Homo sapiens: one gene and its partners. The protein of the gene in region 1 interacts with the protein of each later gene in a pairwise test. Each region holds a gene or a part of one and is shown in the gene's direction. Other genes may lie near its edges. The genes, in order: TCEANC, TCP10L, MYF5 and RUBCN.

The links.
Region 2: the proteins of TCEANC (region 1) and TCP10L interact in binary tests that used the Homo sapiens proteins (3 or more experiments, as listed by UniProt).
Region 3: the proteins of TCEANC (region 1) and MYF5 interact in binary tests that used the Homo sapiens proteins (3 or more experiments, as listed by UniProt).
Region 4: the proteins of TCEANC (region 1) and RUBCN interact in binary tests that used the Homo sapiens proteins (3 or more experiments, as listed by UniProt).

What each region holds. Positions count from the first base shown.
Region 1 is NC_000023.11:13,663,141-13,665,909, forward strand, and holds the end of TCEANC (transcription elongation factor A N-terminal and central domain-containing protein), read left to right. Parts: coding exon 1-424; 3' UTR 425-2,269; downstream 2,270-2,769.
Region 2 is NC_000021.9:32,581,783-32,590,575, reverse strand, and holds the start of TCP10L (T-complex protein 10A homolog 1), read left to right. Parts: upstream 1-5,052; 5' UTR 5,053-5,155; intron 5,156-6,270; 5' UTR 6,271-6,271; coding exon 6,272-6,415; intron 6,416-8,160; coding exon 8,161-8,376; intron 8,377-8,793. Other genes in the region: CFAP298-TCP10L (uncharacterized protein LOC110091775), read left to right, coding at 8,161-8,376. UniProt on the Homo sapiens protein: May be involved in transcriptional regulation. Has in vitro transcription inhibition activity. Acts as a tumor suppressor in hepatocellular carcinoma (HCC) cells.
Region 3 is NC_000012.12:80,711,287-80,720,800, forward strand, and holds MYF5 (myogenic factor 5), read left to right. Parts: upstream 1-5,625; 5' UTR 5,626-5,777; coding exon 5,778-6,278; intron 6,279-7,071; coding exon 7,072-7,147; intron 7,148-7,574; coding exon 7,575-7,765; 3' UTR 7,766-8,385; downstream 8,386-9,514.
Region 4 is NC_000003.12:197,733,160-197,742,161, reverse strand, and holds the start of RUBCN (run domain Beclin-1-interacting and cysteine-rich domain-containing protein), read left to right. Parts: upstream 1-5,257; 5' UTR 5,258-5,442; coding exon 5,443-5,507; intron 5,508-9,002.

The sequences.
Region 1 (2,769 bases):
CCTTTATTCAAAGAACATCAAAAAATATAAAACTTGCATCAGAAGCAAAGTTGCCAATTTGAAGAACCCCAGAAATTCTCATTTACAACAAAACTTGCTCTCTGGGACCACGTCTCCACGAGAATTTGCTGAAATGACTGTCATGGAGATGGCAAATAAGGAACTGAAGCAGTTGAGAGCCTCCTACACGGAATCTTGTATCCAGGAACATTACCTTCCCCAAGTAATTGATGGCACACAGACAAATAAAATAAAATGCAGACGCTGTGAGAAATACAATTGCAAAGTCACTGTAATTGACAGAGGAACACTTTTCCTTCCCAGCTGGGTGCGGAATTCAAACCCAGATGAACAAATGATGACTTACGTAATTTGTAACGAATGTGGGGAGCAGTGGTACCATAGCAAGTGGGTGTGCTGGTAACTGTAAATCAGTGTTCTCTTAACAGATAACCGGAGTGATACCTTTTATTTGTACAACCCTTTTGTGCTTTTAAAAATCTTATACACACTACTCTCTAAAACAGAAAAAGGAGGAAAGAAAGTCGTTAGCTGAAGCTGCCACCACCATCCCTAAAAGTTACAGTTTGGGGAGAGGGAGTGGATGACTATTTATATTGTGCCTTGTGGCCATTTAGTACCTTACTGTAGACAGAGTGTGGGTGAGAACAGCCCAGCATAAACTGGGAGACTGTGGGAAATGCATTCCCAGGCCTCACACCATTGAATCCGAATCTGCATTTTGACAGGATCCCCAGGTAATCTTCCAGGATAGGATAGTTTGAGAAGTGCTACTTTAGCAATAGGCCTGTGGCTCTCAGCAGTGGCTGCATATTAAAATCATCTGGGAAGCTTTGAAAACCCACTGGTGCTGAGACCCCACCCTAGAACAATTCAGTTGGAACCTATGAGATGGGACCCAGGCATCAACATTTCTTTTTTCATTCCTCAAGTTATTTTAAGATGCAGTCAGAGTTGAGAACTACTCAGAAATAGGCTCTCATTTGATCCTTTTTACAGCTCTAAGACAAGAATGTTATTCCAGGCACTTCACGAATGAGGAAACAGGTCCACAGAGGTGTGGTGACATGTCCAAGTGACACAACCATAAATAGTACCAATTCTGACAGATCCCAGATTTTCTCCCTCCTGACTCACTGAGACTGGCTCAATATCGACTTCTGAGAAATGTATTCCTGGAGGTCGGGGACAAAATGAAGAATGTGTTTAAACTCCAACATTGGGTGACTAGATCTTCATTCTTTTCCCCTCTCTTTTCTCATTTATAGGTCTCCCTTCAACCACAAAAGTCACCCTGGAACTCATCCCGCAGTTAGAATTTTGTTTGGAGCCCTCTTGCTTAGTTGAAGGAGTTTCGTAGTTGTTTTTTGTTTTTGTTTTTGTTTTTGTTTTTTCCCCCTGTGAACAGGTTTTTCGGGGGTATGTAAACTCTAGGATGTTTAGTTTCTGATGTCAGGAGTCTTCATGTTCTCAAGGACAAGTGTCCTTGAGATGGACATTAATGGTCATTAGTCTGTCAGAGGAAGCCCATCACTTTAGCCTTTGAATGTAGTAACAGACGTTTATCTAATAAATGAATTGAAGATAAAATTACCTCTTTGAGGCCTTTGCAAACAGTGTTTAACCAGTTTATATAATTGTTTGACTACAACACGCCTTCTATGTGATTATGGCTGATTTTTTTTCCTTAAAAAACTCATGGAATGTTCACCGTTTTATAGTTTTAAAAAGTTTACTTTGGCGGTCTCTACAAACCTACCATTTCACTTTCTCACCAGTTCTTTTCTCCTAACTCTCTTCCTTTGTTGGAGCTCTGAAGGCCTAACTGTGTGTACACTTTACCTGCCTGACAGAATTCTCCAAAACATGCATAAAAGTAAAATATGTTCGTATTTTCAAATAATTTGGAAGAGTCGGCTCAATGCCATCAAGTGTAAAATCTATTTTGATATACTTGCTCTCCGTGTCTTCCCAGGGCTGCTTTTTGTGATGCAACATGTTTAGTCCTTAACTTGCAAGGTCATCTAAAACTTGAAGTTTCACAAAGTGTGGTTTCATATGACTTGGAATAATCTGAAAAACTATTCAGTGGTTACGAAAGAGCACAGCACATAAAAACCAAATTTGATTAGTTCAAGTCGGTGTTTATGTTTTGCTTTGGGGGTTTGTGTGTATGTGTGTAGTTTTTATTTATATTGGAATTTGGCAAACTAAATGTTCAGACAAATAAAAGTAATTAAAATGGAAATTTCCTTACTCTCCAAAATATAAAAACCTTCATGGTCTGGCCGGGTGCGGTGGCTCATGCTTGTAATCCCAGCATTTTGGGAGGCCGAGGCGGGCGGATTGCCTGAGGTCAGGAGTTCAAGACCAGCCTGGCCAATATGGTGAAACCCCGTCTCTACTAAAAATACAAAAATTAGCTGTGCATGATGGCGGGTGCCTGTAATCCCAGCTACTCGGGAGGCTGAGGCCGGAGAATCACTTGAACCCAGAAGGCAGAGGTTGCGGTGAGCCAAGATCACGCCATTGCATTCCAGCCTGGGCAACGAGAGAAACTCCACCTCAAGCAAACAAACAAAAAAACCAATCTGCGTGGTCTTCCTCATTTCATTTCATCTTTATTCGTGAGTTTTGCAACTTGAGATAGGAAAATAGTAATCTGTGTGTTTTTCTTTTGGTTAATGAGACAGCATTACATTTTCTGCCTATAGGTAATTCTTTCAGATCCTATGTCCTTTCCCCTAA
Region 2 (8,793 bases), on another chromosome or scaffold:
TCGTGGAGCTACAGCCCAGGCCTTGGCAGGCTCATTCGTTCTGGAGGCTGGAGGTGGGCTCTGCTTCCTTGCCCTTTCTGGGGCTGAGAGCGCCTCGGCTCCTGGTCCCTTCCTGTCTTCAGGCAGAGTGAGCCTCTTCAAACCTCTCCCCTCCCTCCCTCCCTCCCTTCTTTCCTTCCTTCTTTCCTTCTTTCTCTCTCTCTCTTTCTTTCCTCTTTCTTTCTTTTTCTTTCTCTTTCTCCTTCCTTCCTCCCTCTCTCCCTCCCTACCTCTCTCTTTCTTTCTTTCTTTCTTCTTTCTCTTTCTTTCTTTCTTTATTTCTTTTTCCTTCTTTTTCAGACATTGTCTCACTCACTCACCCAGGCTGGAGTCCAGTGCCACAATCTCAGCTCACTGCGGCCTCTGCCTCCTGGGCTCAAGTGATCCTCCCACTCCAGTCTCCCGACTAGCTGATTTTGTCCCATGATTTTGTAGTATTTCAAGACCAGTATTATGAATATTAGTTTTCATTTTTCTGGCAACTATTTAGTTCTGGCTAACAGAGCACTGACTGGATAAGTATCAGGTCACAAAATATTTACCATGGGTTCATATGATGTGGTAAACTTGTGTCTTTCATGGGGGCTTTTAGCTAAAGCAGTAATTAGAGGTATTGTAAGATGAACCCCTTAGCTAATTGCAAGCTGTACCTGACGTCTCCCATGAAGACAAGCAGCCAGATCCTGAAATTCATGACTGATGACTTGTGAAAGTCTAACGCATATTCTGCAATGATGTGCCATGGGCCTCTGCCATTTCACCTCACCATCACGCCACAAATTAGTACTCACAGCTGAGAGTTTAGACCTAAAAGGGGCAATAAAATTGAGTTCAAATACTGTATTAAGGGACTTGCCCAAAATTACATAATTATTTTGTGTAAAGTCCAAATTATACAAATCCTCAGATTCCGAGGTCGGGGTTTCTTTTCCTGTAACATGTTCCTTCAAATATGGCTGTATCCATGTTTCATATCAAGCAGATCCGAGAAAAATTATGAATAATCAGATAGCATAATGTGGACACAGGGTCACGAGCAATAAAGGGTTCTTATAGAGCTATTAGGAAGAGCATGGTGCCTGCGAGCAGTAGGAAGATTGTTTTATGTATTTATTGGCCTTATAACTATGGTTTAGAAGTGGCAGGAACCCACAGAGGTATACCTACAGAAAGACTTAAAAGAAATAAAACTCCCAGCCTCAATGGGGTATCATGCCACCCTCAGTACCACTATCTCAATCTTAGGCTTCATACACATACCAAGAAACTTCCCACTTCTTTTAATACAAGAACTTTCAGATTTTAAAAATCTTCTCAGGATTCTCTCTCCTCTGTGACCTCTTCAGCAATGGTATTGGAAGTCATGGGTTGATGTTATCTGGCTGAGGGGTTTATCTAGAAATGTCTCCTGACTTCAGGTCTCTTTAGATGTAAGTTAGCTTCTTCCTCTGTCCGTACTCAGTCTCAGCTGGTCACTGACTATGTAATTTCCTTTCTAATCAGTTGGGTCCTACTGCAGAAACAAAATAACACAACGTAGAGTAAATACATTATTGGGATGGCTAGCAGTCATTGGGCATTTTTCTCTGTTCATTATCTTGAAGAGCATACTGTACTCCCTCAATTCATTTTAAACAAAAAAACTTTAGAATGTAATTAACGGAAATTCTCACTATTGTGGATTGAGTCGTTTTTATATGTTGCCTTACCACTTTGCTTAAAGGGGCAATGTCTTTCCTTATTCTCAACCTTTACGAAATATTGTACAGAGAACATTTTTAAAGAGTGTGTAATCCCAGCACTTTAAGAGGTTGAGACAGGTGGATCACTTGAGTCCAGAAGTTCGAGACCAGCCAGTGCAATATAGCGAGACCTGTCTCTACCAAAAATTCAAAAATTAGCTGGGTGTGGTGGTGTGAACCTGTAGTTCTAGCTACTAGGGAGGCTGAGGTGGGAGGATTGCTTGAGCCTAAGAGGTCAAGGTTGCAGTGAACCGAGATGGTGCCACTGCACTCCAGCCTAGGCAACAGAGCAAAACCTTGTCTCACAAGAAGAAGAAAAAAAAAAAAAGGAGTGTGTCACTTATAACATTCAGACTCAGCTCATAAAATCCAAAAGAAACATGGAGTTTTGAGTGTGCTGAAATGCACCACTGACGGGACAACTAGAAAATGAGTAGAAAATCTTTATCTGTTTTGTTTTTTTTTGAGATGGAGTCTCACTCTGCCGCCAGACTGGAGTGCAGTGGTGCCATCTTGGCTCACTGCAGCCTCCACCTCCCAGGTTCAACCAATTCTCCTGCCTCAGCCTCCCAAGTAGCTGGGACTACAGACGCGTGCCACCACACCCAGCTAATTTTTTTTATTTTTTTATTTTTAGCAGAGACAGGGTTTCACCATGTTGGCCAGGATGGTCTTGATCTCTTGACCTTGTGATCTGCCCACCTCAGCCTCCCAAAGTGCTGGGATTACAGGCGTGAGCCACCATGCCCGGCCGAAAATCTTTATCTTTTGGTTCTATCATTGTACACTACAGCTACTGGTAATAGTATTAAGGCATATTTTACAATTCATATTTGGATTCGATCACAGGGCTCACACTCTCTTATCTTCACCTCTCACAAGTTTTGCCATAAGAATTTTGTGGTAGTTTGAGGAACTCAACACAGCTGCAAGTATTTCGCTGGAATCTACTATGATCTGTGTCACTTGAGGCACAGAGTGAGCTCATGTCATTCTTTGGATGACATGCACCCCTCCCTAACTTATTCCGACATTTAGTCATCCAAGAATTCACTCAGCTCTGGTGGGGTGGGCTCCAATCTCAATGGCATCTCACCAGTTCCCAGGTCATATTGCCCATTTGCAGTGATGATATTTAGAAAAGGTGATTTCTTTTGTCAGGGTCTGTACCACTATAGAAGTAGTCCTTTGAACCAGAAATTTAAACACATAAGCTACTTTAAAAAGTGTATCTGCTGCTACTCCAAGCAGCCAGCTCAGGAACTGGCTTCTGATTTTAAAAGATGAGTGAAAGGTGTGCCGTGGTTTCCTCTACAGAATGTTCAGACCAGAGGGCCCTGGAAGACCATGCCTGAAATGCGGCTAAGGCACCGCGAGGCTGAACAGAAAACCGGGGCCTTATCAGAGAGAAGAGAAGGGCCCCACAGTCCAAACGCCCAGGAGCCTCCGCCCTGACCTGCTGCCGCACGTGGTTGCTGCAGGGTGAGAATCTGGGGAAGACTCAATGAAGAAAATGTCCTGGCCAGGCCGGGAAGAGCAACACACAGAGAGCCGCAGCAGAGACAGGGATGGGGGGACCCTGCCCTGGGAGCCGCCCGGCTGAGGCTCAGGAGGGGAGCTGCAAAGCCTGAAACCTACACAACCTCTCACACACTTCAGGACACACACAACCCCTCACGCACCTCAGGGACTCACACAACCTCTCACACACCTCAGGAAGCTACACAAACTCTCACACACCTCAGAAACCTACACAAACTCTCACACACCCCAGGGACTCACACAACCTCTCACACACCTCAGGACACACACAACCCCTCACATACCTCAGGAACCTACGCAAACTCTCACACACCTCAGGACACACACACAACCTCTCACACACCTCAGGACAAACACCCACTCACACACCCCAGGACCCAAGCACAACCCCTCACACACCTCAGGACACACACACAACCCCTCACACACCTCAGGAACCCATATAAGGAACCCACACACCTCAGGCTCATACACACAAGCCCTCACACACCTCAGGAATCCACACACAACCCCTCACACACCTCAGGGTCTCACACACAATGTTGACACACCTCAGGGTCTCATACACAAACCCTCACACACCTCAGGACCCACACAATTCATCACACTTCTCAGGACACACATAAAACCCCTCACACACCTCAGGGGCCCATACATAACCCCTCACACACCTCAGGACTCACACACAATCCTCTCACACACCTCAGGACTCACACAACCTCTCACACACCTTAGGACCCACACACAACCACTCACACACCTTAGGACCCACACACAACCTCTCACACACCTTAGGACCCACACACAACCACTCACACACCTTAGGACCCACACACAACCTCTCACACACCTCAGGGACCCACACACAACCACTCACACACCTCAGGACCCACACACACCTCATACACCTCAGGGACACACACAACCCCTCACATACCTCAGAAACCTATATAAACTCTCACACACTTCAGGACAAACATACAACCTCTCACGCACCTCAGGACACACACACACACACTCGCACACCTCAGGACACACACACACACTCTCACAGTTAGAATGACACATGGGGACAAAAGTGCCTTCTGTTTCCTCTTTGTAGTATTCTCTTCATTCATTCATGACGTCGGCATTTACTGCCTATTGCATGCGAATCGCTTGCAGAACTATCCAAGTGACACACGTCCCAAGCAGGCTCAGGTGAGCCCCAGGTGTATGTTGTCCACACGCAGCACCATGGATGAGAAGGACAGCCAGGGTTTAACAGGAATATCGACTCTTGCTTGCTCCTCATTCTCTTCTCTATCACAAAAATCACACGGACAATTCAGATGGAGATGCATTTAGTGAAATGATGAAACTTTGAATCCTGTCTCCTATTTAAACTCACATATATTATTTTCCCTTCATAAAAATGTTTTTTCTAGTAAATAATTTGATATCCGAAGAAAGTTTGTATTTCTCCAAGAATGTATGCTCAGAGAAATGAGCTCTTACTACACGTTGCGTATTGAAGACTGGATATAAAACACATGGTTTTTGTCAATTTGGAGGAGTAGTTTGACTCTCTCCAATGTCCTTTGTGGATGGATGGACTCCACTGACGATGAGCTTCTATATTAAGAATTGCAGGTTTGGGGATGTTTAATTATTATCTGAGCTGGTACAGTGGTGACGCTGAGTGAGACGTTCATGTCCCTTTAAGACAGAAAGTCCGTTGGAACTGTCCGCTGCTCTCTGGTCTCTGGATATGAGGCAGGAGGGCTTGGGGACAACTGTGGGGACATGGCCCAGATGATCTGATCCTGGCAGTAGTGACTGTTGGGGACCAGGTGAGGTGACGAGGTCTGGTGGTGGGGCTGAAGGAAAGGGTCTTCCCTGGACTGAGGGGGTCATGAGTTTGGGGCCGAGGACACTGGGGTGTCCCCTCAGAGGAGCAGGAAAGAAGGAGCTTTCTCAGGGCTGTGAGGACCGTGACCCCAGCCCACTTCCGCAGAAACATTCCCAGTCTCCGCGGGGAAGGAATGGCAGTGATCTGGTTACTGGTAGGTCTTGCTCTAGACCTTCGATTCGCTTCCATCAGGAGACTCTCTTTTAAATAGCATTTCTCCGATCACTGTGGTTAAACTGTTCCTTCTCACACAGTTAGAAGTTTATGAATTAAACAGTCGGGGTTTCGTTGGGGGCCACTGGCTTCCTAAAACGGACAGGGCAAGGCAGGGGTGGAGGCAGCTTTCAGAGACGACCCTGCAGGCTTGCAGGAAAGCTTTGCGTTTTTCTCTTTCGTTTTTGTTCTCTAATTGCTGTGAACTTCCTAGAACTGGCATAAATGCTGTACCTATAAAAAGGTGTTTCCTTTCCACATCTTCACCATGAATTCACAAATGTCACCCTGATGGTTCAAGACACATACTCAACACGGTGGAGGGTCTGCCTGTGCCCCTCCAGGTGGGTGCTGATTAAAGGGCTGAGAATTCCCTCGGTGTCTCATGCGACCCTCCACTCACACCTGCTCACACCCTGAGACCATTCCACTCACACCTGCTCATACCCCAAGACCATCGTGCTCACATCCGCTCACATCCATTCACATTCCGCTCATATCCTGCTCACAACCCACTCACATCCCACTCACACCGGCTCACACCCCACTCACACCCCTCTTTGGATGACTGGAGTGTGTTAGGTGTCAGGCTGATCTTCTAGGATCTAAAGCATTTTCCACGGAGGATGGTGGAGAGCCAGGTGTGGACAGCTCAGTCCCTCTGTCTGTGGTGTCCTTTCACCTGGTCAGCTTCGGGCCTGGGAATGTGCACATGACCCAGGGGGAGAAGGAGCGGCTGCGGGTCCTGCTCACCCTTAGTTTGGGGCTGGGGCCTTCAGCCCACACTGACGGGGTAGGAGGGCTGCATTCAAGTGTCCCCATAGCCCTTCCCTTCCCAACCAGGATGCTGGCAGGTCAACTCGAGGCCAGGGACCCCAAAGAGGGCACCCACCCAGAGGACCCGTGCCCAGGAGCTGGGGCTGTCATGGAGAAGACAGCTGTGGCAGCCGAGGTTCTCACGGAGGACTGCAACACTGGGGAGATGCCAGTGAGTTGAGCTCTGTGGGGACAGAGTTAGTCCCACCAGGCGGGACCCTGATTCCTGTCCCTGAGGCCCGTCATTGGACTTTCCCTTGCTGGACCCCTGTAGGAATGCACCACCCCGGGACACTGATTCTGTACTTCCTCTCCAAGGGGCATGTGGCTCTTTCCCCCTCTGCAACCGTATCTCTTGGTGGATGGGAGGCAGGGCAGGGAGTTAAAGAAAATATTAACATTCCAGCTTTTCTCCTCTAATCCAGGAGAAGGCACCAGACTTTAAAAACTTCATTAAAGAAAATCAGAAAGTTGACATGCCTCACATCATCCCAGCAAGTTTCCTGATTTTTACCATCTTCCTCATTGGACCCTGTTGGACAGTGCTTGCTGTCATTAAAGTCCCACGGGTCCCTGTGGCCAGGGCCACCCAGTGCAGGACTGTACCTTTATCACGATCCCACTTATTCTCAGAGCAAGGCTGGAGGCTCTACGATCCAGTGAAGGATCCCAGGGGAAGGCTAACATGTTAGGTTGAAAATGCAGTGGCTTCCATAATTTTTTTTTTTTTTTTTTTTTTTTTTTGAGACGGAGTCTCGCTCTGTCGCCCAGGCTGGAGTGCAGTGGCGGGATCTCGGCTCACTGCAAGCTCCGCCTCCCGGGTTCACGCCATTCTCCTGCCTCAGCCTCCCACGTAGCTGGGACTACAGGCGCCCGCCACTACGCCCGGCTAATTTTTTGTATTTTTAGTAGAGACGGGGTTTCACCGTGTTAGCCGGGATGGTCTCGATCTCCTGACCTCGTGATCCGCCCGCCTCGGCCTCCCAAAGTGCTGGGATTACAGGCGTGAGCCACCGCGCCCGGCCGGCTTCCATAATTTTTAAACTATTGACCATATATCCATGCCAGTACAGCCTTTGAGACCAGTCTGGCCAACATGGTAAAACCCTGTCTCTACTAACAATAGAAAAATTAGCCAGGTGTGGTGGCATGTGCCTGTAATCCCAACTACTCTGGATGCTGAGGCACCAGAGTTGCTTGAATCTGGGAAGTGGAGGTTGCAGTGAGCTGAGACTGCGCCACTGCACTCCAGCCTGGGTGACAGAGAAAGACACTGTCTCAAAAAAAAAAAAAAAAAAAAAAAAAAAAGGAAAAGAATGCCAGCCTCTTTTTGCTGTAGTAGTGTTTTAACAAAAAAATCATAATTCACTAACCATCTTTATCTGGTTATATTATGTGGACTAACTCATAATAAACACTACTTAATAAGAATAAAGCTATGGCCAGGCATGGTAGCTTATTCCTGTAATCCCAGCACTTTGGGAGGCCGAGGCAGGTGGATTGCTTGAGCCCAGGAGTTTGAGACCAGTCTGGGCAACATGGTGAACCCCCATCCCGAGTAAAAATACAAAAATTAGCGAAGTATGGTGGCACATGCCTGTAGTCCCAGCTATTTGGGAGGTCGAGACAGGAGGATCGCTTGAGCTCATCAAGTTGAAGCTTCAGTGAGCTGAGATCATGCCACTGCACTCCAGCCTGAGTGACTGAGTGAGACCCTGAAAAAAGAAAAGAAAAGAAAGAAAGAAAGGAAAGAAAGAAGAAAGAAAAAGGCTGTGGTAGTCCTGTTTATCTCATCGGGTGTCTTTTATTCCAGAAATAGTGTTGGTCTTACATCAGAGAGGGCTTGAGTATTTTGCAGATAAATGTGCCCATTGTGACATCTGAGAGGTTTTTCTGGTGTTCTCTTCCCAATAACAGCCATTACAGCAGCAGATCATCAGACTCCACCAAGAGCTTGGGAGACAGAAGTCTCTGTGGGCTGATGTTCATGGAAAACTCCGGAGTCATATAGATGCTTTGAGGGAGCAGAACATGGAGCTCCGAGAAAAGCTGAGAGCTCTGCAGCTGCAGCGGTGGAAAGCCAGGAAGAAATCTGCAGCGTCCCCACACGCGGGGCAAGAATCGCACACTCTGGTACCAAAAGCGCATTTATGTTTTTGTACCGTTTGCGTTATGTAAAAATAGCGTCCCCATAAAGATGTGGGCTTTATTGCTGAATGACGCGGTATCACTCACGCTCCGGGTGGTGGGAGGGGTTGCTATCTTTCCATCAACTCCATTTCCCGTAAGTAATGATTAATAAGAACTGGATACATCAGGCCTCTCACCTGGCACTCCAGCAGACAGAAGCATTGCCGCCCCCAGGCCGTGTGTCTCAAGTCCAGAATTCTAAGACATCTCATGATGTCTCAGGACAACAGCAGCAAACCCTTACTGTGGACTTTACATGGGCTAGGTACGGAGCTTTACGGTCTTACTCTCTATGACGACCCTATGAAATGGATCCTATTACTAACCCCATCGTGGCCACGGGCTGGAGAACGTAGAGCT
Region 3 (9,514 bases), on another chromosome or scaffold:
CTCTGTGAAACAGATGCCTTGGCACATTGTTAATTTCTTTCTTTCCTCCTTTTTTTTTTCTTTTTAAGGGGTGATGTGTCCCTGTTGCCCAGGCTTGAACTCCTGGATTCAAGTGATCCTCCAGCCTCAGCCTTTCAGGTAGCTGGGACTACAGGCCCATACCACTGAGCCCAGCTTGCCTTGGGAAATTAATAAGCAACATTTTATGGTCTGGGGAAAAATTTGGCTCTCCTTGGCGTTTGTTTTCTAAAAGCTCTCTCTCAAGAGTGGCTAGCTACCGAACTCCAAATTAGAGCAGTAACTTAAAAAAATAAGTGGTAAAGCATTTCAAATTATCCAACCAAAACATGTGTGAATATGTCTGGGTAGTGTCTATGCCCATTAATTATGCTTATTAGATGCCCATCATTTTCTCCCTGAGAATCAATAGGGATTTTCCCCAAATTGTATATATGCACACTTCTATTTTTAAAATTCAAATTTATTATGCAACACAAAATAATGTAACTGATTAGGTGAACTCATTTAATTTATAATTTAGCCTATACTTATAGTAAGATCTGTGTTATAAATGGCTCAACAGCAGAATGCTTTTATTAATTCGTGGACTTTACTTGTTGATGGATTTTATTCAGTCTTTGCAAGCCAAATCCTCTCTATCTCTCTTAGCTGGGTAACTTGAGAAATTGTTTGGAATAAGTTTGCCTATAGAAGTCTCTTCATTAAATAGAGCAAATATTTCCCAAAGACTTCATGTGACCTCCACTGCTACAGATGACATGTTAGGCTTTCCAGTGAAATCCTTGGTGTGTTTGCAATTAAAATGTTTTTGTTTGATATTAATGATGATAATCTTTACTGAGGCCAAAGCCAAAATAAACAGGGCTGTGGAAGCAGATAATCAAGACATAATAACTTGGTAAAGATAAGCAATTTGGGATTAAATTCAAGCCTCTTTCCAGAGGCAGGTATAAAGTTATCAAGTACAAAATAATGAGTGATTTTCTTTATTATATTACTACAGAAATAATTTGCAGAAAATCAAATGCCAGCTTTCATACTAATTTTAATACCTGGATCACTGAATTCCAAGCCTGAACACTGGAAATCCTCTTAGGTCTAACAGTCTCATTTATTTTTCCTCAAACTCTTGCATTTGTTTTGGGAGTGGAGGGAATGCTGGAATTTAGGGTTTGCAACTATTTCTGAAACTAGCAGAGAAATCTTGAGATGCTGAAAGTGATCTCTATCCTTATTAAGACTTTTTTTTTTTTTACTAAAGTTAGAATTTACCCAGTTGTGTTTTTCTTCTAGTAATATTTTATCCCATTTTGTCGTTTCAAAATCGCTCTCCCACAACACCATAGCTGGAATTTTTTTTGACATTTTTTTTAAGCTTTGAATATCTAATTGCCTAATCCAATGCATTGATAAATTATCAATAACATAGTATTTTCTCAAAGAGCCAAACCACCAAGCTATTTCTCTGACAGGCCCCTCCAGTCACTCCCTTAAACTATTACACTTATAAAAGATGATCCTCCATCATAGAGGTTTCACTCTGAAAAAAGCAATTTTTTTGCAAGCCTAGTTCAGAGTCAGTCTGAGATGGAATGGCTATGCCATGTGCTGGAACAAAGATAATGCTGTAAGAACTGGCTACTTTCTGTACTCTCAAGGCTGCTAAATGTCCTTACTTAGGCCTTTGATCTCTCCTGGAAGTCCTCTAATTCAAGCAGAGGCCAATGTCTTCCTCAGCTGTCTTCACAAATTCTTCCAGCAGCTCTGGCAGGTACTAATGTGTTTACTTAGGTGTGCCTGATTCCCAGAGCTAATAGCAATTTGCAATTGTTGAGCACATTGTGAAGTCATCTATAATATAAAAAATATCAAGAACAACTCCCTTAGTCCAGGAGTTGATAAGGATCTGCAGGCAGGGGCAGAAGTGAATTGGAATGTATGTATCCTTCTATATGTATTTGGTTTCTCCCTCCAAGAAAAGCATAGAGAATTTTCAATAATGCAGAAAGCCTAGGGTGGGCAAAATTTATTAGAAGAAGAAGGTATGAGCATCATTTTGCTGGTGTGATCTGTCCATCAATATTAGTGTGTTGCCATAATGCTTAAACTAACACAGATTTCACTTAAAAAAAAAGTTGATGTTACGTAAAGGTCATTGCAGTTAGAACCTGGTTATAATTCTAAATTGTAAGAAAATCAAATGTATTTATTTTTTCAGAATATAAAATGAAATAAATAAATAAATAAATACTTCACCAGAGCCTTAGTGGGTATCCATTTATAGCACCAGAGGTGACTGGGTTTTCTTCCCCTCAACTACCTATGGTTAGACTTTCCTAGCAGACAGTGTTGGAGTGTCATTTCTAATAACCTGTTTACATATGAAATAAATGTGCGTTTTCTCCGCAAGCAAGAAATCCACTTCTTTGCAGAAATAGTGGAAAACTTATTTTCATTCTTTGTGTGAGGAGCAAAAGCCAATCTAATCCGACTTTGAGTACAAAAGGGTGCCCTGAGTAGATCTTTTCAGAGCCATTTTTAAAACTTTTCCCATGCTTCCCTGGCCAACCCACTCAAAAAAAAAAAATGCTTTTCTCTATGTTGCTCACCCAGTTCTTTCTTTTTCCCCTTCCAGGTCTCCCCTGGGAAAAGAGCAGGGAGACCGCTCCTGAATTGGGACACTGTAGCCATCTTTGTGGTGCTGGCTGCCTACTGTCTTAGCATATTGCCTTTTTTTTTTCTCTCTCTCTCTCTCTCTCTTTCTTCTCTCGCCCCTGACAGCGTTTTAAAAGTTTTGTCTTATTTCTTTTTACTTTGGTACTCTGAGATCCTATTTTCAGCACTTGCGTCCCAAGGGCTCTCAAGTCCGGACCCTGTTCTCCTGCTAGCAAGTCCCATTAAGCCGCCGGGCGCTTGTGTTTTCTCGGCTTCTTTAGTTCCACTCGCTCGCGGCACTCTGGTAACTTTGTTTTGAGATCACCTTACCAGAGACAGCTCTAACCTCTGAGAACTACCCTTACTGACAGAGGCTCCTGAGTGACGGCGTCTTCCCAGGCACAGGAGCCAGGGAAAGATGTTGAGTAGCCAGCTTTTGCGAGTTTCTGCTCTGGAGCCCTAAGGAAGCGCACGGAGCCTAAATTAATTGAAGAAGAAAACAAACAAAATCACCTCTAGGAGTAGGAACTATAATGACAGGATGCCTAGTTTCCAATCCTGTATGACCTTGGGGCAAATAACCTAGTCCCTGGAGCTCGAGTTTACTTTCTTTCTACAATGGGCCCAATAATAGCTCCCACAGGGTGGTTTGGAGTATTAATTGTTAAGTTAATCTAAGGAAAGGGTTGAGAACAGTGCGGGGCAAATAGAAAATTCTCAATAATTGTTAGTTAAAAATATTTCGCGCTGAGGGGCTTGAGTACAAATCACGTTAAGTGCTTTCAGAAATTAGCTGAAAGATGAGCAGAAGCGTAACCTCTAACTTTCACTCAAACTTTAAAGACCAAGTTTATTTGTGTCCAAAGCACAAGTCCGAGCTAATTTGTGGACTCCACAGCCAAAAAAATAAAAAAGTGGTCATATGGCTGCTAATAGAAACTGTGGGACTTGGCTGAGAATTCCTGGGGGAGGATATCTACCCACTATTGTATTTCAGAGGTAGCAATGTGCTTTGCATTTGCTGTGCATTTGAATGTTTCCACCAGCGTGGATGGCATCTTAGTTTCCACCTGGGTTCTTCTTGAACTTGCCTCTTTTTATCTGGCGTAGCCCTGGATACCGTATTCATTTCAAAGGCATAGACTTGTTAATAGCCCTAAAAAAGGTGCAGATGGATTTCCCACTGGTCAGATGATTAAGCAGCCCATTGGTGTGAGAGGGAACCTGATTTTCAGGAGAGATCTTTTTCTTAGAGATGACAGGACAGAAGAGAGGAGACAGCAATGGTGTGGCTAGCAAACCTTAGTGACTGACAGTGTCACTCTCCCACCTCTGGTTTTCAAGGTCTTCACTTTAGAGAGATCGCACCCTGAAAAGGTTGCTACTTCTCTGGCCCCTGAAGATGCTGGATCAATGAACCAGTGTTGCTTTAAGAAAATAATTCTGAAAAAAAAGTACAAAGTACCATTCACTGAAAGAAATAATAATAATAATAGGAAGGAAAACTCCCTCCTCCTCGCAATAACTTCGGAGCCACTATATTTATTGAACTGGGTTACCCTAGATTGAGTTGAGAACACTCCTGCTTCTTTCAACGGGGCCACAAGACCTAGTCCAAAACCCCAAGACTAATTGTGTAGACCTTAAGTAATTGCTTTTCCTAAATATAAACAGCACCTCCCCAACCCAAATAACCTGAAAGTGGATTAAGGTTGGAGGAGGATTGGTAAAAGCTGATTAATAGATTCATTCCCACTTAAATGACAACCCTCCCCTCTTGCCTTCTATCCATCGAAGTTCTAAAGACCCTGCTGTGATTGCTTTTCTGGAAGGCTTTTGTCACTGAAGTGTGTGAAGTTACTCCTGGTTTGAGGAGTTGGAAATTTTACACGAGTCAAGGATTGCAGTGGCGGCAGCTGGGACGCATCTGTAACGGTGTTAGTTTGCCTGAAAGCAGAAAATTAGCAACCCCAAAGCCCAGCTTGGCTGTTTAGTCTGTAGAAATGACAGGGCGGAGCAGAAAGAGAGGGAGAAAGGAGACTCACCCCTGGAAAGGGAGTTTGCCGTCGAAAACTGGGCTTCTTCTGTTGGAAATCTTAGAGACACTTTCAGTGCAGGTCTTTGGCCTGCTCAGGATCTAGGGAAGGCCTGGCACAAAGGAGAAGGTGCTCAACAAATACGTACAGAAGGGGAAAATGAAGGAAGCAAGAACGGGAGGAATGTTCCTGGTCACCTGGCCCTCCTGTGCCCCACCTCCTTTTAGATGAGCAGACATACAGGGAGAACTCAGAGCAAGCCCAGTCATGGGAAAAGGAACCTCCCTCCCTACTCTCAATAAGGTAGAGCCTAGAATAAATGACAATCTGAGCAAAACTTTACTCATCTGAAGCTATACAAAATAGATTTGGAAAGGCAAACCCTGTATTCACTCCAAGATTGAAAATGCCACTTCAAGTTTTTAGTAACCGTTATTCAATCCAATTGCTGGAAAAAGTTTTCGAGATAATTGAAGTTCATGAAAAAGAGAAACAAACACCCCCAAATCAGGTGATTCCTCACGCCCAGGATTGGGAGGGCAGGTCGGCTCTTGGTGCCAGCTGAAAGGGATTTCTATTTATTACCACTATTTTAAAATGTGTGTCCAATTGCAAAAAGTTGGACTGCCTTGGTCACTTTTGTGTGAAACACTCCTTAAGTGATCCCTTGTTTTAGCCTATCTAGAGAGTGCAAATGAGCAGGTTGGGGACCCACTGCCGCCCCAGCAGAAATACAGTAAAACCATTAGCGTCAAAAGGGGCAGTACACAGCAGATTGTCTGTAGAGGAAAGGCGGAGGTTTGTCCAGACAGCCCCCGCGGGGGTTGCGGTGGGATATGCTAATAGTGCCTGGCCACTGGGGCCGGCCTCCCTCCCGAAAGAATATATAAAGAACCCCAACCCCAGCTTGTCTACCCAGGCCAACAGGCGTCTGCCCTTGTTAATTACCGGAGCGACAGACTAGGGAGCTCCGCCCGGGATTTGCCCATCGGCGGAGGCGCCAGGCTCCCGTTTCTCCCCATCCCTCTCGCTGCCGTCCAGGTGCACCGCCTGCCTCTCAGCAGGATGGACGTGATGGATGGCTGCCAGTTCTCACCTTCTGAGTACTTCTACGACGGCTCCTGCATACCGTCCCCCGAGGGTGAATTTGGGGACGAGTTTGTGCCGCGAGTGGCTGCCTTCGGAGCGCACAAAGCAGAGCTGCAGGGCTCAGATGAGGACGAGCACGTGCGAGCGCCTACCGGCCACCACCAGGCTGGTCACTGCCTCATGTGGGCCTGCAAAGCCTGCAAGAGGAAGTCCACCACCATGGATCGGCGGAAGGCAGCCACTATGCGCGAGCGGAGGCGCCTGAAGAAGGTCAACCAGGCTTTCGAAACCCTCAAGAGGTGTACCACGACCAACCCCAACCAGAGGCTGCCCAAGGTGGAGATCCTCAGGAATGCCATCCGCTACATCGAGAGCCTGCAGGAGTTGCTGAGAGAGCAGGTGGAGAACTACTATAGCCTGCCGGGACAGAGCTGCTCGGAGCCCACCAGCCCCACCTCCAACTGCTCTGATGGCATGGTAAGCAATAGATCTGGTACCTGCTAGGCTACCCTAATCTTTTCTAAAGTCCTTACACCTCATTTAACCTGGTGTGGTGGGGAGAGTGGGGTGGAGGCAGATGCTGAGTTGCTTTAAAAGAAGAGAGGGGTCCACATTTAGAAAGACTCCCCAAACCGCTGCTGAACAAGATTTTAGTTTAACTTTCTAGCAGGTTCTAGGTGTACACTGTAATCGAGTGTTGACATGGAAGATGGGTGGCTGTGAATGATCACTCAGATGTTTTCTCCATTCCTGAATTTATTTTCAAAATATGCCATCTGTGGATCATGCCCTACGCTAATATCTAAAGGCACCGTTTCTAACTTAATGAGGAAATGGAAAGAAATACCCACACGGCCCCAGTTCCTGCTCCAATGAGGCCTGGCTGAAAGATGTTGATGCATTCTTTTTAGAGGGCGTTTGCTCCAAGGCTGCCAGGTTTTAATGTGTTTTTGCCCTGGGAAAGTGTTCTTTCCCTGAATTAGTGTGGCTTTCTTCTACTCCAATCCATTTTGCATGGTTAACCCAATGCACATTGCTGCTGAATTCCACCCCCTCTTCCCTTTGCTGCTGCTCTCCTCTTCTTCAAGCACAGAGATTGACCTCAGTGCCCTGGGAATTTGGAGAGGGCTAGCCCTTCCTAAATCAAGGCAGTGAAGGTGATTGACAGTGTTCGGTTACAGAGCTGGTGGGCAAGCACAGCCTCACCTTTGGTCAGAACATCTTTTGCCAAGACCTGAAAACAAACTTTGTTGTGTGTCTTGTATTATAGCCCGAATGTAACAGTCCTGTCTGGTCCAGAAAGAGCAGTACTTTTGACAGCATCTACTGTCCTGATGTATCAAATGGTAAGAATTGATAACTTCACAGGAGTTTAAAGACCAGTTCAACCTAACAATTCAGCCTATAAGATTCTGTTCTTGCTGATAGTATTGGGGAAGGGAGAATGGAAGTGATGGTTCTTATAGGGAGGCTTTGGTAAAGCAAAATAAACACATCTTCTGCTCCAAATCCCCCTAGCAGACACGCACGCACACATGCATACACACATGCACACACAATGTTGCTTGAAATATTATCAGGGGGCTTCCCCACTCCCCACGTCTACCCCTCAGGAATTGCCAGATATTTGTTGCAAATTTCTATGTTAGGCTTTCTGTGACCACCTGACCTCTGGGTGTCAGAGGAGCTGACCTACAATTTAAGGAGCAACATAAGCAAATCTGTCTATCTTGGGCTAATTATTTTTTAATGCTTTTCTCCTTGTATCCTTAGTATATGCCACAGATAAAAACTCCTTATCCAGCTTGGATTGCTTATCCAACATAGTGGACCGGATCACCTCCTCAGAGCAACCTGGGTTGCCTCTCCAGGATCTGGCTTCTCTCTCTCCAGTTGCCAGCACCGATTCACAGCCTGCAACTCCAGGGGCTTCTAGTTCCAGGCTTATCTATCATGTGCTATGAACTAATTTTCTGGTCTATATGACTTCTTCCAGGAGGGCCTAATACACAGGAAGAAGAAGGCTTCAAAAAGTCCCAAACCAAGACAACATGTACATAAAGATTTCTTTTCAGTTGTAAATTTGTAAAGATTACCTTGCCACTTTATAAGAAAGTGTATTTAACTAAAAAGTCATCATTGCAAATAATACTTTCTTCTTCTTTATTATTCTTTGCTTAGATATTAATACATAGTTCCAGTAATACTATTTCTGATAGGGGGCCATTGATTGAGGGTAGCTTGTTGCAATGCTTAACTTATATATACATATATATATATTATAAATATTGCTCATCAAAATGTCTCTGGTGTTTAGAGCTTTATTTTTTTCTTTAAAACATTAAAACAGCTGAGAATCAGTTAAATGGAATTTTAAATATATTTAACTATTTCTTTTCTCTTTAATCCTTTAGTTATATTGTATTAAATAAAAATATAATACTGCCTAATGTATATATTTTGATCTTTTCTTGTAAGAAATGTATCTTTTAAATGTAAGCACAAAATAGTACTTTGTGGATCATTTCAAGATATAAGAAATTTTGGAAATTCCACCATAAATAAAATTTTTTACTACAAGAAATATTTTGGCTCATGATCTTTTAAAATAACACCCCAATGGAATTACTGTTCATTGACATGAAATCTTTACATGTGAGCTGAAAATACTTAAACAGTTGGCTTTTCAGATAAGTCTGAATATTTACCATTCTCATGTACCCAGTTTAGGTCCTGTTGATGTCACAAGTGAAAATGTCATATTTTCATTTTAAATATATTTCAAGTGAACCTGCTAAATGAAACTTTTCCTTTATCTTAGAACTGTACCATATACTATCAAGTCGTTTGTGTGTGAAGGGAAGATAGAGGTTATTCAGGACAGTAACACATGCTTTTTTAAAAAAGACTATACAACATCACATCATTTTAATAACTATAGTACAACAGAAGGCATGAGTTAAATCATATTTACTTTTACTACCTGCCTGAAAATATCTTGATAATATATACTAATATTGTCAATAAAATATTTAAAGGTATTGGGCTGATTTTTTTTATATTGCTAGAGTGCCAACATAAGAAAACTTACACAAATTATACTGAAGTGAGACAGACTTGAGTTTTCTTCCTTCTTTTTACAGCCTTTTAAACTTTATTGTATTAATCATATCATGTATGCGTGTGTGTGCATGTGTGTATGTAAAACAGACTTGTCTCATATTCATCACCCTAAATCTCCTCTAGAAAGAACTGATATGAAAAAATTGAACAATTAAGTGGAAAATTAGGTTGAGACAATGATTGGGATAATTATCACAAGTTTACCATTGAGAGAGATTTTAAAAAGAGATTCTTAAAGTATCTAAAGTAGCTATTCACAGAGAACAAATATTGATAATTGTTTAATCCTCTTATATGTACATTGATTTAAAATTCCTAAGGATTTGTGGTTACATACATTAATTTAAAAAAAGCATACAGACTCTTTACTAGAGCTTGGCAATGCTACTGTTCTCAGGAAGGTTTCTCTTTCTCTCTGGTGTGATTTGCTCATGCTTATGCAGTCATGAAGCTTAAAGGAATGGGAATCATTCCATAAGGGAGGTATAAGGGCTGAGTTAAAAAATATGATGGCCACTGTCACTCTGTTAGCATCATGGCCTGACAGGGAACGCTGACTTTTAGCACACAGATATAAGTCTTTACTCATG
Region 4 (9,002 bases), on another chromosome or scaffold:
TTTCTTTGGGAGGCCGAGGTGGGCAGATCATGAGGTCAGGAGATCGAAACCATCCTGGCTAACACAGTGAAACCCCGTCTCTACTAAAAATACAAAAAATTAGCCAGGCGGCAGCGGGCGCCCGTAATTTTAGCTACTCAGGAGGCTGAGGCAGGAGAATCGCTTGAACCTGGGAGGCAGAGGTTGCAGTGAGCCAAGATTGCGCCACTGCACTCCAGCCTGGGTGACAAAGCGAGACTCCGTCTCAAAAAAAAAGAAAAAGCACACATTTTTATCCACCGTTCGTGGCTGGCAAGTGTTCCTATATAGTTTTTTGGGGTTTTTTTTTTTTGAGATGGAGTCTTGCTCTGTTGCAGTGGTGCAATCTCTGGAGTGCAGTGGTGCGATCTCAGCTCACTGCAATGTCCACCTCCTGGGTTCAAGGGATTCTCCTGCCTCAGCCTCCCAGGTAGCTGGGATTACAGGCGCCCACCACCATGCCTGGCGAATTTTTAGTAGAGACAGGATTTCACCATGTTAGCCAGGCTGTTCTTGAACTCCTGACCTCAAGTGATCCTCCCACCTCGGCCTCCCAAGGTGCTGGGATTACAGGCATGAGCCACTGTGCCCAGCCAGTTCCTATATAATTGAATAAATGAACCACTACTAAGTGCTTAGAGGGGATGGAAATGTTGCTATAAAGACAGAATAAAAGCTAAGTAATTAAAACTTGGCAAAATTCTTCAAAAGCTTTTAAAATCATCTCATCAGATGAACTACTATAAGCTTTATATATGCCTAACAGAAAAAGAATTTTGGTAAATCAGTAAATTTGGTAAAGTCAGTGAATTGGTCATTTGGCAAAATTGGCTTAAAAGACTTTTAGAAATGCTACCTATGGGGAAAACATAAATTAATTTTAAACTGTCTTTAAAGTTAATCATTACAAGATTAAAAATTTCCATGTGAAACACTAAAATTTTTGTTATATTTAGCAGGATACAGTCATAAGAAAACAAAACCATACTAAGATCATTGACTATTTTTTTAGGTCCCCATGAAAGCAGAACCTTGACTATTTTTTAAACTTGCAAATGTAGAGAAAAGTTGCAAAAATAGTGCAATGAATACCCATATATCCTCTACTTCGCCAATTAATGTTTTGCCACATTTGCTTTCTCTCTGTATAGAGGTATTAGTTGTTGTTAGACAATTTGAGAGAAAGTTGCAGGAATTATGACTCTTTAGAATCTATTTCTAAGGGCTGTGTGCAGTGGCTCACACGTGTAATCCCAGCACTTTGGGAGGCTGAGGTGGGCAGGTCACTTGAGGTCAGAAGTTCGAGACCAGCCTGGCCAACATGATGAAACCCCGTCTCTACTAAAAATATAAAAACTAACTGGGCGTGGTGTTGGGCACCTGTAATCCCAGCTACTCGGGAGGCTGAGGCAGGAGAATTGCTTGAACCCAGGAGGCACAGGTTGCAGTGAGCTGAGATTGTGCCACTGCACTCCAGCCTGGGCAACACAGCAAGACTCTGTCTCAAAAAAAAAAGAAAGAGAATATATTTCTAGGGATATTCCTTAACATAACCATGCTAAAATTACCAAGTTTAGAAAATTTAACATTGATGCTGTACTATTATCCAATTATGGTTCATGTTCAAATTTTGCCAATTATACTACAAAATTTCTTTTTCTTTTTCTTTTTTTTTAAGATGGAGTCTTGCCTTGTTGCCCAGGATGGAGTGCAATGGCATGACCTCAGCTCACTGCAACCTCCGCCTCCCAGGTTAAAGAGATTCTCCTGGCTCAGCCTCCCGAGTAGCTGGGATTACAGGCGTCTGCCACCATTCCCAGCTAATTTTTTGTATTTTGTATTTTCAGTGGATCCATGATCCAGCCTGAGTGACAGAGCGAGACTCCATCTCAAAAGAAAAAAAAACAAAAGAAGGGGTTCAGGATTATGAGGGAAAGTAGAGGGATGGGATAGGTAACGCATGGCTAGTGCAGATTATTGTCATGTTTATTAATGGCTTTAAAGAAAATCCAGTACATGTAACTTGAACTTGGACATATGAGAAAAAGCCTGTTTTCCAGCCTTTTTGCTACAATTTTAGTTTTTGGATTTCTTTTTTTTCTCCCCAAGACAGTCTCACTCTGTCACCCAGGGTGGAGTGCAGTGGTACAATCTCAGCTCACTGCAACCTCTACCTCACGGGTTCAAACGATTCTCATGCCTCAGCCACCCAAGTAGCTGGGATTACAGGCGTGTGCCACTACACCCGACTATTTTTTCTTTGTATTTTTAGTAGAGACAGAGTTTCACTATGTTGGCCAGGCTGGTTTCGAACTCCTGGTGTCAAGTGACCCGCCTGCCTGGGCCTCCCAGTGTTGAGATTACAGGCGTGAGCCACCGCTTCTGGCCCCTAGGATTTCCTGATAAAGCTGATTGCCTTTTTTTTTGAAACGGAGTCTCCCTCTGTCGCCCAGGTCTAGCTCTGTCTTCCAGGCTGGAGTGCAGTGGCGTGATCTCTGCTCACTGCAAGCTCCGCCTCCCGGGTTCATCACGCCATTCTCCTGCCTCAGCCTCCGGAGTAGCTGGGACTACAGGCGCCCGCCACCACGCCCGGCTAATTTTTTGTTGTATTTTTAGTAGAGACGGGGTTTCACCGTGTCAGCCAGGATAGTCTCCATCTCCTGACCTCGTGATCTGCCCGCCTTGACCTCCCAAAGTGCTGGGATTACAGGCATGAGCCACCACGCCCGGCCTTTTTTTTTTTTTCTTTTTTCAGACGAAGTCTTGCTCTTATCGCCCAGGCTGGAGTGCAGTAGCACGATCTCGGCTCACTGCAAGCCCTGCCTCCTGGGTTCAAGCCATTCTCCTGCCTCAGCCTCCTGAGTAGCTGGGATTACAGGCGTCTGCCACCATGCCCGGCTAATTTTTTTGTATTTTTTAGTACGCCTGTAATCCCAGCACTTTGGGAGGCCGAAGCCGGCGGATCACCTGAGGTCGGGAGTTCAAGACCGGCCTGACCAACATGGAGAAACCTTGTCCCTACTAAAAAATACAAAATTAGCCGGGCGTGGTGGCGGATGCCTGTAATCCCAGCTGCTCAGGAGGCTGAGGCAGGAGAATCGCTTGAACCCGATCGCGCCATTGCACTCCAGTCTAGCCAACAAGAGTGAAACTCTGTCTCAAAAATAAATAAATAAATAATATAGTGTTAATTTGGGATTATACTGTATGCCAAAAAATAAAGTTCATACATTTATAGAACTAGAAGTAAGGCCAGGTATGGTGCCTCATGCCTGTAATCCCAATACTTTTTGGGTGACTGAGGCAGGAGGACTGCTTGAGCCCAGGAATTTGAGACCAGCTTAGGCAGCACAGTGAGACCCTGTCTCTACCAAAAATTAAAAAAAAAAAAACAAATTAGCTGGGCATAGTGGCACTGCCTGTGGTCCCAGCTACTTGGGAAGCTGAGGTGAGAGGATCCGCTTGAGGAGGTTGAGGCTGCAGTGAACTGTGGCAGCGCTACTGCACCCCAGCCTGGGTGACAGAGCAAGACTGCGTCTCCAAAAGAGAAGAAAGTCACAGAAGGAAGAGAAATCCCAATGAGTAATATTGCCCCTTTCTTAAAGAAGTATAATCGTTTAGTAGGAAAATGAGAAAGTTTGAAAGAGAGTATTTTTTTAACCTAAATGAAATCATAAATGGCTTCAAGAGGCTCTTTCATTTCATTTTTAATTGCCAAAACACTTTTGTCAAGTTTGAAAATACCTAAAAGCCATATATTATTTTAATATAGAGTCATTAGTTTTTCACGGAGTTATTCTTGATCGCTCTTTCTCCCTCACTTGCCACAGTCAGTCCTTTATAGAGTAGTGCTGATTCTGTTGCCTTCACATTGCTGTAATCTGAGCCTCCTTGTTCTCTTCAACCGCTGCTGTAGTTTAAGCCTGGGTTTGCAAACTAGCAACTCAAGGGCCACCTTCAGCCTACAGACAAGCTGTGTTTGGCCTGTGCAAAGTTGAAAGTTTAAAAAATTTGTTGCCAACGTTTAAAAATTTGGAAGTAGTGCTTAAAAATGCAGATCCTAGCTTCTTTTAAAAAATCAAAATATCATAGCTAGGTGTGGTGGCTCGCACCTGTAGTCCCAGCTATTCAGGAGGCTGAGGAAGGAGGACTGCTTGAGCCCAGGAGTTCCAGGCTGCAGGGAGCTATGATTGCGCCACTGCACCCCAGCCTGGGCGACAGAGAGAGACCCCGTCTTTGAAAAAGAAAAAAGAGAAACCAGAGTATCTGGCAACCCTAGGCCCACGTTTCTTTCAACTGGTTCGCTTCACTTCTTAGCATTACTTGGTTATCCCCCATAAGGATGACCAGTCTCCTATCTAGCCTTCCACCGTTACCTCAATATAGTATTATATCTGCCCCATCTCCTGTCCACATTGTCAAAAGTGGCTTTCTCATCAGATTCGATCAAATCACTTCTTGATTTGCATATGCTTGATTTGCTGATTGTTTTCAGGATAAAATCCAAACTCCTTAAAATGGCATTTCATGATCTGGTTTCCCCACACCAGAATGCCCACACCATGCTGCTGCTCACTCCTTCCCAGCTCTGGCTACCCAGCACCTGCAGTTCCCAAGCCAGCACTTCCTTCCTTGTATCTGCCGTGTTGCTCTCTCCACCTTCTCTTCTTTCTCCTGGCTAACCCGTACTCAGCCTTGAAAACTCTGCGTTGACATCCATCTTCCGAGAGCCCCCAGAAGCCTTTCTCTCCTGCTCTTTTATGATCCCAAAGCAACCTGTGCTCTTGTTTGTGAGCGCTTCATTTAAATGCTCGAGGTCTCCAAACACCACCAGCGGACATTAAGCCAGGGCGGGCTGAGTGGGGTTAATCGTACCGGGATTAGATTAGCGTTATTGCCTAGTCTACATCTCGGACTGAGTTCGGTCCCCAGCGTGTAATGTCACGGGGGTGAATAAGGATACGCCCCGGCACGGATTCCTGAGACCAAGGTCCCCCGCCGCTTGCAAGCCGGCCCAGCCAACCACCGGGTGCGTAGTAATCCACGAGCGCGGCCTGGGATTGGAGGGCGCGGCCTGCGGGAGCGGCCTGGGATTGGAGGGCGCGGCTTGCGGGAGCGGCCTGCCGTTGGAGGGGCGCGGTCTGCGAGCGCGGCCTGGGATTGGAGGACGCGTCCTGCGGGAGCGGCCTAGCCTCGGAGTGCTCGCCGGGGGCTGTAGTCCCCGGAGCCGGAAGTGGGGGTGGCCGGGATAGAAGCCGCAGCCCAGGCGGCGGTCCCTCCCGCTGTCGCCGCCCGGGTGTAGCGCATCACCCGGAGCCCACCGGCCGCAGGTGCCTCCTCCGGCCCCAGGGGGCCCCGGGAGCCCTGAAGGGCGAAGCGGCAGGGACGCCTCTCTTGGGCGAAGAGGCGGCCTCACCGCCCCGGATGCGGCCGGAGGGCGCGGGAATGGAGCTCGGAGGCGGCGAGGAGCGCCTGCCTGAGGAGAGCAGGTGGGCTGGGAGCCGCCGCGGAGTCGGGGCAGCGACAGGCGCCGGAGCCCCGGGAGGCTTGGGAGGGCGCGGGGTCACGGAGAGAAGGGCCGGGCGCGACGAGTCTTGAGGACGACGGCTGCGGAGGACTTGTTTGGGAAGCATTTCGCAGAGGAAGGACGGGCGGGGCGGGGATGGGACGAAGGAACCGGCTTAGGGTGAGGAGGGTGGGTGGGATTTGCGGAGGGCAAGGGCAGCAGAGGAGGGTGAAGCTCAGATCCAAGACTGCTGGAGAGGAGGTGGCAGCTGAGAGACTGGGCGAAGAGGCCAGAGGGGTGCAGTGAGGTTTTACAGGCCAGAGTCTATAGACAGGGGCAGGGCACCACCCGGACTGAAACTTGCCGTGACAGCAAGTGGGGCCAACGCGAAGAGGATGTGAGAATTCCTGGGAGCAGAGGTGAAGCGTTATGAGTGGCCTCGGAAGAAGCTTAGGCAGAGATGAGCATGGGGATGAAGGCGAGGAGAGCCTGGGGAGAAAGTGAGCGAGTGTCATGGCAGTGCGGTGGGGCGGGGACTGCTAATGAGACCAGAAACTCTGCACTTTGTCATTGCCGAATCCCTGTCAGAGAGTGGCAGGACCTCTGTGCCATTTCCTTTTCGTCTTCAAACCTGTCCCTTTTTCCTCACAATGCAAACTAAGCAAGTTCACATTTATTTATATGGAACCATGTCAGAAAGCTCATATCTTCTAGAAATTGGGGGATTTAAAATATAAAAACTACTTTGGACCGGGTGCGGTGCCTCACACCTGTAATTCCAGCACCTTGGGGGAGGCTGAGGCGGGTCGCTTGAGTCCAGGAGTTTGAGACCAGCCTGGGTAACCTAGGGAGATCCCCGTCTCTACAAAAATACAAAAATTAGCTCGGCGTGGTGGTGCTCACCTGTGGTGCCAGCTACTCGGGAGGCTGAGGCGAGAGGATCACTTGAGTCCAATAAGTCGAGGCTGCATTGAGCCGAGATCGCACCACTACACTCCAGCCTGGGTGACAGAGGAAGACCCTGTCTTCAAAAAACAAAAAGCCAAAGAAACCCCGAACTACTTTGACTAAATGATGAATCGGAGTCTGTAGAGATGCCTTCCATATTTAGGGTTTGCTTCATTAATAACTCTGGTCTTAATCTTTTTTAAAGAGGCTGGAATGCTGACAGGCGAGAGCAGGAATGTGGCTTAAGGGAGTCATACTTGACATTTATTATTTTATTTTTATTTTATTTTTTGAGACACAGCCTCACCCTGTCCCCCAGGCTGAGCGCAGTGCCGTGAACACGGCTCACTGCAGCCTCCAACTCTTGGGCTCAAGCGATTATACTAGCTCAGCTTCCCAAGTAGCTGGGGATATAGGTGCCAGCTACCACATCTGGCTACTTTAAAAAACTTTTTTGTAGAGACAGGGTCTCACCATATTGCCCAGGCTGGTCTCTAACTCCTGGGCTCAAGCAATTCTCCCCCGCCACGTCGGCCTCCCAAAGTGCTGGAATTAACAGGTGTGAGCCACCAGGCCTGACCTCACTTGACATTTAGAAACAGTTTCAGATATAATGATGGTCTCAGGAGCAGCTGGGATCCAAAAACTAGAAGCAGAATATTTACCTCTGAGAAAATATCAACAAGGGAAGATTTATGAGATGTTCCTGGGTGAAGACTTGCTATTTTTAAGGGTGACTCTACTTTTATGTGCAAAGTGGCCTGTTGAACAAAACCTGGACTGACAGGACTTTGGGGCTCCTGCCTGAGATCTGAGAATGATTTGTGCTAAGTGAAACTGAACATCTTACTTCCCTTTTCCATGTTTCAGTTTCTGCTTTGCCTATTTGACTATTTATTCTTCCTGCAGATGTCTGTGACGTGCTTCGTGTGAAAGGTCCCATGTAAATTCTAAACACGTTTTAGGATTGTTTTGATTTCCCTCTACCACTTCATGTGAGGGAGGCTGGGTTAGTTATTTTTTTAATGTATGTAACAAATGCTATTTACCACATGCCAGGAATTGTTTTAAGGTATTAAGATATGAATACTGCGTTAACTTCTTTAATCCCTATAACTATTGTATGTGGTCGGTACTACTGTTATTGCTGTGTCACAGATGAGAAAGCTGAGAAATGGACAGGGTAAGTAACTTGCCAAGGTTGTACAGCGAATCCCTGGCAGAACTGGATTCAAACCCAGGCAGTTCGGCACCAGAGTCTGCGCTTTTTTTTTTTTTTCTTTTTTTAGACAGGGTCTCACTATGTTGCCTAGGCTGGTCTCAAACTCCTGGGCTCAAGATATTCTCCAGCCTCGGCCTCTCAAAAGTGCTGAGGTTACAGGCATGAGCGACCATGCCGGCCCAAGAGACTGCACTTTTTTTTTTTTTTTTTTGAGATAGAGTCTTGCTCTGTCGCCAAGGCTGGAGTGCAGTGGCACCGTCTTGCTTCACTACAACCTCTGCCTCCCAGGTTCAAACAATTCTCCTGCCTCAGCCTCCCAAGTAGCTGGGATTACAGGTGCCCGCCACCACGCCCAGCTAATTTTTTGTATTTTTAGTAGAGACGGGGTTTCGCCATGTTGGCCAGGCTGGTCTCAAACTCCTGACCTCAGAGGATCTACCAGCCTCCGCCTCCCAAAGTGCTGGGATTACAAGCGTGAACCACCGTGCCCGGCCCGAGTCTGTACTTTTAATACTCACCCTATGCTGCCTCTCACTATGCTAATAGTAACAACGGAAGTATAAGATAGTGAATAAATTTCACAGCATTCTGTGCCTGTCATTCAGGCCAGTAGGATAGCTCCTTTGCAGAATCTTTTCCCGTCTTTTATTCTTTTTATGATTGCCTCTTAACCAAAAAACTTTAATCAAAACTTAATTTTAGTAGTGGGGTTATCCTCACAAAGTCACTCCCGTCATTGTTATAGGCATACTGTGTTGGCGGCTGATTAATTCAGAATGCGTTGTTTAATGAGGCTTCATGGTACTGATGGCCTCCTTAGCTCCAGATACACAACTGGTAAATACACATTCCTTGTGCCTATTAATTGAGGCTTTGTGACTGGGTTACTGCAAACATAACCTTTCTATGGCCAATGAAATACCCAGTTCAGAAACAGTCTTCTTGATGAGATAGCATCATTTTTATTTATTTATTTATATATTTTAAAGATAGGGTCTCACTGTGTCACTCAGGCTGGAGTACAATAGTGCAATCGTAGCTCACTGCAGCCTCAAACTCCTGGGCTCAGGTGATCTTCCCACCTCAGCCTCCTCAGTAGCTAGGACTACAGGTGTGTGCCACCACTCCCAGCTAATTTTTAATTTTTTCAGATTTTTTGTAGTGACAGAGTCTCACCATGTTGCCTAGGCCAGTCTCAAACTCCTGGCCTCAAGGGATCTTGCTGCCTTGGCCTCCCAGAGCACTGGGATTACAAGCATGAGCCACTGTGCCCAGCCGGTAGTGTCATTTTAAAAATGAAGGATGAAA